2 separate regions of the Homo sapiens genome follow, and region 2 is linked to region 1. Evidence: fine-mapped expression QTL. A gene starts in region 1. The other region holds a variant in brackets. All regions are shown on one strand. Distances are between the middles of the regions.

The links. PIP is the estimated chance that this variant, and not a neighbour inherited with it, causes the effect. A credible set is the group of variants that fine-mapping cannot tell apart.
Region 2: its variant is the best candidate, but not a certain one, in a credible set for the expression of RPL29 in whole blood (INTERVAL, PIP 0.79).

Annotation. Positions count from the first base shown.
Region 1 is chr3:51,992,930-51,998,301 of GRCh38, forward strand. It overlaps RPL29 (ribosomal protein L29), which reads right to left and starts at 2,966. Exons shown (of 4, transcript NM_000992.3): 1 at 2,928-2,966; 2 at 2,496-2,540; 3 at 2,113-2,177; 4 at 593-1,197. The coding sequence starts at 2,532. The coding sequence ends at 820. RefSeq lists enhancers at 425-1,157, 2,911-3,070.
Region 2 is chr3:51,335,547-51,340,918 of GRCh38, forward strand. It overlaps DOCK3 (dedicator of cytokinesis 3), which reads left to right. Exons shown (of 53, transcript NM_004947.5): 36 at 2,813-2,873; 37 at 3,389-3,482. Among named protein-coding and RNA genes, the nearest start is that of MANF, 47 kb to the right of the region's middle. RefSeq lists an enhancer at 4,323-5,207. The variant G/A (reference allele first, on the strand shown) is at 3,008.

The DNA.
Region 1 (5,372 bases):
CCTAGCTGTTGGGGGACTAACATAGCCCAGAGCAGTGGATGCTGACCAGGTGCACCAAAAGAGCCCAAATCTGGGACACCTCAGGCCAGAGTGCAGAGCTGCTCAGCGGGGCCCCTTCCCCTCCCTTGCAGTAAGCTTTAAGACCTCATGAGGATGTTTAAGATTTCTCCCTTTGGGCCAGGAGCACTGGCTCACGCCTGTAATCCCAGCACTTTGGGAGGCCGAGGCAGGCAGATCACAAGGTCAGGAGATCAAGACCATCCTGGCTAACACAGTGAAACCCCATCTCTACTAAAAATACAAAAACAAAATTAGCCGGGTGTAGTGGCAGGCACCTGTAGTCCCAGCTACTTGGGAGGCTGAGGCAGGAGAATGGTGTGAACCTGGGAGGCGGAGCTTGCAGTGAGCCGAGATGGCACCACTGCACTCCAGCCTGGGTGACAGAGCACGATTCTGTCTCAAAAAAAAAAAAAAAAATTTCTCCCTTTGCTCGGCAGGTTACACAGTCCAGCAAGCTATGTGCCCGAGCTTCCCAAAAGCCCCCAATCATTTCTCATTCATTAGGTCCTCCTCTTGCACTTCAGGGCCCCATCTCCTGACTCCCACCCACACCCCACCATCCAGACCCATGTCTTCTCCCACACCAACAGATGGAGCAACCAAACCCATCCCCAGGATCATAGACAGAGGCTAACAAATCCTGCCTCAGGTTTATTTGTACAAATAGCACAGGAGGACCCCAGCCCCATGCAGATGGTAGCCCAGGGGCGGGGGTGGGGGGTCGCACCAGTCCTTCTGTCCTCATGTTGGCAGAGATATCTACTCTGAAGCCTTTGTAGGGGCCTGGGTACGTTTGGGAGCCTGAGCTGGAACTGAAGCTGGGGCTGCAGCCTGGGCCTTGGTTTGATCCTTGGCCTTGGCCTTGGCCTTGGCCTTTGGCCGGCACAGCCTGAGCCCCTTGGCAATACGGGCACGAGCACGCTTCCCAAGCTTGGGGTGGGCAATGTAGGCAAGTCGATCGAGCTTGCGGCTGACACCCTTTGGGATCTTGGGCTTAACCTCCTTGGGCTTTACGAGGGCCTTGATAGCCTCGGCACGTGCACTCATGGCCTTGGCATTGTTGGCCTGCATCTTCTTTAGGCCCTTTTTGTTGTGCTTCTTGGCAAAGCGCATGTTCCTCAGGAACTTGGGGTCCACCTGAAAAGCAGGAAAGGTACAGGTGGCAGCATGTGGGTCCCCAAGTCTCTCCCTGCTGCCCCTCTCCATAGGGGTACCCAGCATTCTAAAGACAGCATCAAGTCAACCTCAAATGTGGAAATACCCAACCTCTTGAAACTATTTCCAGAGAAAGTGTACCACCACCCCAGGGAGCCAATACGCCACCTGGGTAATGCTGTGCAGACCTCCTTCAAGAACAAAATTACAAGCTGCTTTGCTGCCCTGTCTGCCAAGGTTGTGGGGCTTCAACTTCCTACAGCAGGGGTTCGACCAAGTTTTTTCCTGACATCCCCTCAGGGACACCCCCTCCCCTCTTTAGAAGAAGGTGTCAATTAAATACCAAGTCTGGTCCAAAAGACTTATAGCCAAGGTGGGATATGGGGAAACTGAGGCTCAGAGTTTGTGATTCACTCCACGGAACAGAGAGCAAAAGTAAAGGGAAGGAACAGACTGGGGACATGCTCAGCTCTCCCCTAGACCCTCCAGCCTTCTCAGCTAATCCTTAGAACCCCCTGACACAGGAAGAGAAGCTGACCCCAACTCCAGCACTGGGTCAGATGGAGGTCATAAGGCTGGTCAGTGTGGGAATGTGCCCTGCACGCACTCAGACAAGGCCACTCCTTACCCTAAGTGCCACTGCCAAGCAAGGGAGATAGCCAAACTGCCCTCAGGAGGCAGGTTACACCCTGACCAGAGGGTTACACTTCAGGCTGTGGAGACCAAGGAAAGCTTTATTATGGGTCTGGTAGGGTAGAAAAAGGAATTGCAGGCTTTGGGTGGGCCAGTTAGGCTGTGCTCAGGCAGAAGCCAAAGCTAGAGAAAAACTACATGAGAGGCCTTGACTGTGCACCTGGAACCAAGAAAAGACACTTCCATGTGATTCAGTGCACTCACCCCCTTAAGAGATTCGTATCTTTGTGATCGGGGTTTCTTGATACCATTTCTGTGCCATTTTCGGGCTGTGGGAGAAAAAAAGGGAATTAAGCCAACAAAGAACTTTCCTCTAATAAGACCACCCAACATCACAGCTGGCAAGTCTGGGAGAACCAACACTTCCTACAGCAGCTACACTTGAGATATGGGAAACCCTTACTACTAAATGCAAAACACTCTGTATCTCAAGTAGATCTCTAAACCTATAAACCCTAAAGTTATTACTGGGTGAAATCAATCAGCCTCAGGCCCACAATGGAAACGTGCCCCTTCATCTCTGTCCCAGTTTGCCTGAACCAGTCCTTGCCAGGGTCTGGGATGTAGGCAGGGCCCAAAAAACTTACACTGGTTGTGTGTGGTGTGGTTCTTGGACTTGGCCATGTCTGCACCTGGAAGACAAAAGTGGAGATCAGGGTTAAGGGCTCGCCAGGCTGGGCCACCTCTGCCCCCCCCATTCTGGTCAGAATGAGCCTGCAGGCAGAGAATGTGCAGCCTCCACGAGTCTCGGCTTACTCTGCACGACCAAACGCCAGTCCTGGCCTCCCAAACCCAGGTAATGATGCCCTGAAATCAACTCCTTACCCCCGGAAAGCTGCATTCCCCAATAAAGTGGCTTTCCCTGCCATCCCCCTCCTAGGACCTAGAAGCACCATTCCCACCCCGCAGCTTTTGCTCCCGACAGACACACGGTCGGTCACCAGTCCTCTCCGCAGCCCGCGCCCCGCCGCCACCCGTAAGTCGCGGATGGCATCGGATGCCGCGCGGCCAACACTCACCATAAGCCGCGGCTCCCGAAGCGCCTAGAACCGGAAGAGAAAGGGGCTGCGGTGCAGCACGGGAAATAGGGTCAACAACGCCGGAAAGTACTACTGGAAAAGCTTCCCCAGGCTCCGCGAAGAAAAGTTCCGAAGCCCGGAAGAACGCAAGCCAGACGTGGAGGCGGTGCTACGAGCTTGCCTCCGCCCCCTTCAGGCTGCCTCCTCCCTTCTCTGTTTCTCCAGGACCTGTCTCTTAAGTCTTATTCAAGATACTGAAAAAGAAAGGAGTCCTTGAGGGATGTTGTTGGGCAAGAAGATCTGTGTTCTTTTTCTTTTTTTTTTTTTTTGAGACGGAGTTTCGCTCTTCCACCGAGGCTGGAGGGCAGTGGCACAATCTCGGCCCACTGCAACCTCCGCCTTCCGGTTTCAAGCGATTCTCTTGCCTCAGCCTCCCGAGTAGCTGGGATTACAGGCGCCCACCACCACGCCCGGCTAATTTTTACATTTTTAGTAGAGACGGGGTTTCACCATGTTGGCCAGGCTGGTCTCGAACTCCTGACCTCGCGATCCGCTCGCCTCTGTCCCCCAAAGTGCTGGGATTACAGGCGTGAGCCACCGCACCTGGCCGATCTGTGTTCTTAAAAGCACCCCTGTAATCCCAGCACTTTGGGAGGCTGAGGTGGGCGGATCACGAGGTCAGGAGTTCCAGACCAGCCTGGACAACATGGTGAAACCCCATCTCTACTAAAAATCCAAAAAAAAAAAAAAAAAAAAAAAAAAAATTCACGGGGCGTGGTGGCACGTGCCTGTAATCCCAGCTACTCTGGAGGCTGAGGCAGGAGAATTGCTTGAATCTGGGAGGTGGAGGTTGCAGTGAGCCAAGATCGCACCATTGCACTCCAGCCTGGGCTACAGGGCGAGACTCTGTCTCAAAAAAAAAAAAGAAAAGCACGCCTGACTCTTTCGTGGAGAAGGAGCAGAGGGGAGGAAGGAGAGAGGGCTGCCTGGACCTGAGGGAGGACAGTGGGAATGCAGAGGAGTGGACAAAGAAAGAGTACTGGACTTGGGACACAGAAGATGAGGGAGAAAAAGGAGGCAAGGATAGCCCCTATGTCTTTGGCTTGACAACTGGGTGAATGGTGGGCTGTTTACAGAGATGGAAGATTGAGTGGGGAGCAGGGGCTTTGTTTGTTTTGTTTTGAGGGGGAATGATGAGCCAGATATTTTTGTTGGATGCATTAAATGTGAGATGCCTGTTGGACATCAGAATTGAGAAATTGTTGCCTCTAACAACTCTGTTGCCTTCTCCACCTCTTCCCCCTATAGTTCATTTTCCACACGGCAGTGGGGCTTGGGGACTTGTTTTAAGATACAAATCAGATCCTGTCCCTTAAATCTGCAAGGACATCCCCTTGCATTGAAGATCAATTCTTTACCCACTTGACCCTGACAACCTCTGTCATTTACTTCTCTCCAAACGCATTGCCTTTCTTTCCTGCCAACCACAAATGTGTGTTCTGCCTCAGGACCTTTGCACTTGCTATCCCAGCCACCTGGACTGCCCTTCTCCCTGCTTTTTGGATGGTGTGCTCTTTCCTATAGAGGCCTCCCTGGACTCCATTATCTAAAATAGAGAACCACTGCCTCATCTCACCAGTGATTCTGTGTCCTCTCATGGTTTCCTTTCTTTTCTATTCTTTTTTTTTTTTTCTTTTTTTTAGACAGTCTCACTCTGTCTCCCAGGCTGGAGTGCAGTGGTGCGATCTCAGCTCACTGCAACCTCTGCCTCCCGGGTTCAAGCGATTCTCCTGCCTCAGCCTCCTGAGTAGCTGGGATTACGGGCGCACACCACCACTCCCAGCTAATTTTTAAAGAATTATTTTTAGTAGAGACGGGTTTTCACCATGTTGGCCAGGCTGGTGTTGAACTCCTGACCTCAGGTGGTCTGCCCGCCTCGGCCTCCCAAAGTGCTGGGATTACAGGCGTAAGCCACCGTGCCCGGCCATGGTTTGCTTTCTTTATAGAACTTTCCCAGACTCTAATTGCATTGTTTACTTAGTTGTGTATGTGTCCATTATCATAGGAGCCCAGAGTTTGGGACTGGTTTGATCACCTTCATTTTCCCACTGCCTAACTCAGCATAATGTAGATAGAGCAAGAGCTTAATAAACACATGCCCAGTGAACGTTCCTTGACAAGCCAGGTTCGTGGAGTGACAGACGCATACTGCAGAGGTTTAGGGAGTGAAGCGGAAAGGAGGTTGTGGAGGCAGGACATGTGGATGACTCATTACCAAAGCATTCCTGAGAAAGGGGAGAGAATTCTGACAGGTGTGAGTTGGGAGAATGAAAAGCAGGCTTATATACTGATGGATGATCTGGTGCCAAGAAAGAAACAGCTGAGCCCAGAGGAGAGTGTCTCTGCAGGAATAAAGTCCCTGTGGGGTGCTGAGCACAGGTAGAG
Region 2 (5,372 bases), 660 kb before region 1:
CTTGTCCTTATCTCCCTGTTCCCCTGTATGGGGGCCAGCTCCTGGCAGGTGCATAGTAAATAATGAGTGATAAACTTGTTGGAAAGACCATGCAGGAACCAAGCAACTCTTTTCCTCTGCCTCAATGCAGTTAGTTCAAGAACTTACTAAGAAAAGAGTTGTTGGCCAGGCACAGTGGCACAAGCCTGTAATCCCAGCACTGTGGGAGACCAAGGCAGGCAAATTGCTTAAGCTCAGGAGTTTGAGACCAGCCTGGACAATATGGCGAAACCCCATCTCTATGAAAAATTGGAAAAGTAGCCAGGCATGGTGACATGCACCTGTGGTCCCAGCTACTTTGGAGGCTGAGGTGGGCGAATCACTTTAGCCGGGGAGGTCGAGGATGCAGTGAGCTGAGATTGCGCCACTGAACTCCAGCTTGGGCGACAAAATGAGACCCTGTCTCAAAAAAAAAAAAAAAGAAAAGAAAAGAAAAAGAAAATAGTTGTTGATATGACTCAAGGGAAGGACATCAAACAAAAAGGAAAAAATAATTGTTCAAAGTTTTAAAATACATACATTGATTAAACAAATAATCAATAGATTGTACTCTAGAATTACCTGAACCTGTTATGTAAGACTCAATTTTAGACTGGCAAAACTTTAGGTACTCAGAGGAATACCTCTTCAACTTTTATATCAATGTCTTTAACTTTTGTGTGAATCTCAGACACTCTGTGTCAGACATGAAGATTCTCACTGGTAGTAACTATATTTCCCAGGTTAGGAAGCAGAGCCCTAGAAGGGTTTTTTTGTTTTTTTTTTTGTGCCTGGAACAGACAGGGACAGAGCTAGAGTTGCCAAGCCCTTGTGGCTCAGAGTGGAACCTCTACCTGGAATGGGCAACTGAGGGTTATGAAGCCTTCCTTTCCCAGGCCTCTCAGGTTGCAATGAGGGCTTCCTGGTCACTGATGTAGTCCCCAGCCAGCCCACTACTCAGGTGAGCCGGATGCTTCAGAAGCCTCTTTCTGGAGTCTTCCCTGCTCACCCTTCAGAGAAAGAGCAAGAGGAAAGCAACAGCTGCACCTAAGTCAGACTTTAAAAGGCATCCACCATGAAGTAGCCACACAGAAGTGATGCAGAGGTACACAAAAAAAGAGTCTGCTGTCAGCAGTGCAGAGGAGAAGCAGTCATAGAGCACAGAAGTGTGTAGGATGCCCCTGGTATCACAGTGTTGAGGCCAGTTCCTTTCTGTTTAAGGGACTTAGCTATGAAGTTCTGGTTATGGCCAAATAGAAGTTAATCCGTGGTAAATGTTTCAGATGCTTTATAGAAAATACAAATCACTAAATGCCAAAGTGGCTAGGTAAAATCTCACTGCCCTTCATGGGGCCAACTTACTGGGGAGACAGATGCCTTCTACCATTGTGTGGGTTGCTTGGAACAACTTGGCCATCTGACCTCAGCCTCACTCCTCGAAAAGTCAAGCAGTTTCCTGGCTCTGCTAGCGCTAAAGGGACAGGTTCTGCAGAGGGATGTTCAGGACCCTCATGTCTGGCTACATAGGAACCAAATATCTTACGTGGTGAATGTGCTGATAGGTCAAACCCCCCTAGAAAGGAGGGCCTTGGTTCCAAACCTCTCAAACCTATCAACTCTGACAGGAGACTTCCACAGGAAGGACATTTGGCTTTGCAGAATATCATGAGAGGAGTATGGATTTTCAACATCCTTTTCTTTCAAAGAAGTCATCCCAAGGTTCTTCCTCTGCATGATGGGAAGGTGGGGAGAACTGGGTTTGTCAAATGACCATCCAGAGGCTCAGTGACTTGGCCTAGGGACCCTGACTCCCAGCTGTACTGCTCTTCACTGGGCCCTGTGCCTGCCAGTGGAGCAAAGCCAAAGACACTCTCCAACCTGACCCTAGAAATCTGTATAAACCCCTTTCTGCAGCTTTTCCCCAGAGCTGCTAATACACAGCTGCACAAGAAACTAGATCTTCTCCATAGCAGTGTGGGCTGCTATGGAAGGAGACACATCAGGCAGATGGCACTCTGGCTGGCATAGGAGATGTCTTGCTGGATTCACCAGTCTGGTTCTCATTCTCCTTCATCTCCTTGTGCCAGGCTTCTGCTCCTTTCCAGAGGAGCTTGGCTTTGACCAACCCTCTCCCTATCTTGGAAAAGATCCATTCTCAGTGTTCCTATTTTCCTATCTCTCACAGGCCATCCCTGACCCCTCCTACACCCAGACCCTGCTAGGTATGAATGCAGCTCAGTCCTGGCTGATGCTTTAAGCACGAGACCTGCTGCTTCTGGTGATAGATGGCTCCAAACACTAGTACACAGGAAGGAAACCATAGGGAGAAATGTCAACTAGGTGGTGAACATGTACAGAGCCCTGAAGCTAGGGCCCTGAAGTGGAGGGTCTTGGCTTCTATTCAGCACTCCTACAAAATGAAACCTGCCCTTTAAGGAGAATTCTGTGCCTCCCTTTTTGGGAAGTTGAGGATTTGGCCTTCCACTTAATTCATATACCCTTTTGTGCCAAGGACATTGGTAGGTGCCACTTAATACCCTGATGTAGCTCTGGGCTCTCTCTGTGCTCTGCCACCAGAATAAGGGGCTCAGTTGAACAGAGATCTTTGAGCCCTGAGAGTGGTTCCAAAGCTAAAGGAGCTCACAGTAGAGTCCTTATCTATGGAAGCAGTTCCTGTTGGAGGCCATCTCAATCTGGGATTTGGTCATACTAATGCCCCAGTGATAGTACAGTTCTATGTGTTGTCTCAAGGCCCCACTTCATATCTGGTGCTCATCTGTGCTCTCTCTTCCAGGGACTGCATGAAAGGAGAGGAAACAGAGAATAAGAAGATAGGCTGCACTGTTAACCTGATGGTGAGAGGACATGGGCCCTGACTTCTCTCTGCCTACTGAAATGGTTTCTGTCCTGCACTGTGATTGGCTTGGCCCTTCTACAATACATGGCTGCAGGCCTAAGGGTTTGAATCAGGACATCAGCTCTGTTACTG[G/A]TATCTTAGAGGCCTGCACTCCCCCAAACACATTCCTACTTGGGGAAGGAATGAAACGAGCTTCTCTTTGGATAGAACTCTAGCCTGGCCTCTTGGCAAGGACCCACTAACCCTGACATACCCAATTCACAGTCAACCCTGACTCCTGATCTGCCCTGATGCTTTTCCTCTTAACACTACCCAGGGCTCCCATAGACCTGCCAGTGGTTCCACCCACAGCAGGTGTTCCTTCTGGCTGGTGCTTTCTCCTTCTGGTGCTGTCTGCCTCCAGGGCCTGCCCTCCCCCTCCTGCCCAGCACACCCACGGCTATGGCCAGCTGCCCAGAGCTTGGCTATGGCTTCCACAGGTAGTTGACAGGTGTTTCCTTCTCTTTATTGTAGAATTTTTACAAATCTGAGATTAACAAGGAAGAAATGTATATCCGCTACATCCATAAGCTTTGTGACATGCACTTGCAGGCCGAAAACTACACAGGTAAGTGGGGAGAAGAGAGAGCCATGCCTGACCATGAGGACAAACTGAAGGGATTTGTACAATAGGCAGAGAAAGGCTTCAGGCTGGTGCCTGCCAGATCTCAGCAGAATGTTGGGGCTTGTGCTATCCCCTCACCTCACTCATTTCCCTCAACTCCTTTGTGGCACATGGTAGAGAGAAAGCAGGCAGAACTTCCACTTGTGCCTTTGTGCCATGTCATCCACTACTTGAGTCTGTTTCACTCTTCTTCCCTCCTATCCACCCCTCTGAAGTCTCAAGGGTGACCTCCAAATTCTGGTGCACCAGGTTCAGAGCATCCTGAGCTCACTGTCACTCCTTATGAACAGAGAGCCTTTTTTAGGACTTTCAAAGCTGGAGCTAAGGTTATAACAAAGGAATATCCCCCTAACCCTGGAACTTCCAGAACTCACTAGCAGACCTTCCTTGCAGGCTAGGCTCTTCAGACCCTGCAACTGCATAGCAGCCTCACATTGTGCACTCAGTGTAGAGTATAAAGAATGTTCATCTGACTTCTTGACAGGCCAGATAGGGCTCCTTTCATTGTATCTACAATTTAATCCAATATCAAGGCCTTTTCTAACTAGAACAAATTTTAAAGCATTTCAAAGTGGCTGTCACATCTGTTTACTGAGAACCACGCTGAATCGGGGTTACGTGCATGCATGTGTGTCCTATCTGATTGACTTATGCCATCGTTCCCCCCAAAGAGCCATTTTCTCCACTGTGGTGACCAGCCATTATGTCTTAGCTCTTAGGCGATAGGACTTGAATTTGTGTGATAGATCAGGAAATTTAAGCTATCCTTGTCTGCAAACGCTACTGCAATTAGATAGATTTGTAGAAACAGAGAATCCTCCTTCTTTATCTCTAGCCGTTAGAGAGTGTTTGGCATAGATGGTATCTTATCTGATAGCATAGCTTGGCAAGAATTAAATCTAAAATGACTGGGCTTTGAATCTTAAATTCAGCTGACTAATAAAATAAAATGACTGGGCTGAGTCTACCATTCTCTGCATCCACTTGCACCCATGATCCCAGCAACCCTCTGAGAGGGCATTGAAGAGAAAGACTTTGATAAATGTTATGTATCAGTAGAAGCATTTGCTAAACTCCTAGGAAACGGGGCCATGACTGAGAGGCTGGGTCAGGGATTTTAACAGAGAAAGAGTGCTAAGCCTTGTCTCTGATGGCTCAGGGAATGACATCTGAAAAGAATATAGGCAAGGAAGAAAAAGACGTTCCATGGTTTCCTAAGCTCCAGAGGGAGGCCCTGAGTTCCACAGGGCTTGTCCCTAGAGAGAAAAGGCTTCCTGATCCCATGAGGAGGCGTGTACATTCCTTGGCAGGAAGTTCCAGTGGCAAGGGCACAGGCAAAAAGGCAAGGATGAGGAGGAGCCTAAAGAGTGGACACAGGCAAGTGGGCCTAGCTAAAACTGGAAGTGGGTCAATAAATGGTTAGAAATGAGATTCTTCATAGTCATGGGGAGTAGATTTGAGTAGGGCCTTGAAAGCCAGGCAGAAGCACAGAAGCTAGAACTAACTAACTTGCCAGTAGGAGATGCCCACTAAAAATGAACAAATAGAACAGAGAGAAAACTGTGTAATGAGGCCCCTGAGCCGTGGCTGTGATTCAGTATGACTCATCCCTTGGAATGTAGGGAGCCATGGTATTTCACTGCTGTTGTTTTACATAACCTTCTCTAATTGTTCCACACATAGAGTAAGATGTTGCCAGGCCTTCACTCTGGGTCTAGTATCAATTTAGGTTCCTTTGGTAATGGAGCCCTAAGAGCCAGTTCTGAGAAGGTTGGAAAGGAAGCTGTAGTCAGTTGAGCAAAAAGGAACCCAAGAGCTCTCTCTGATGTGTCA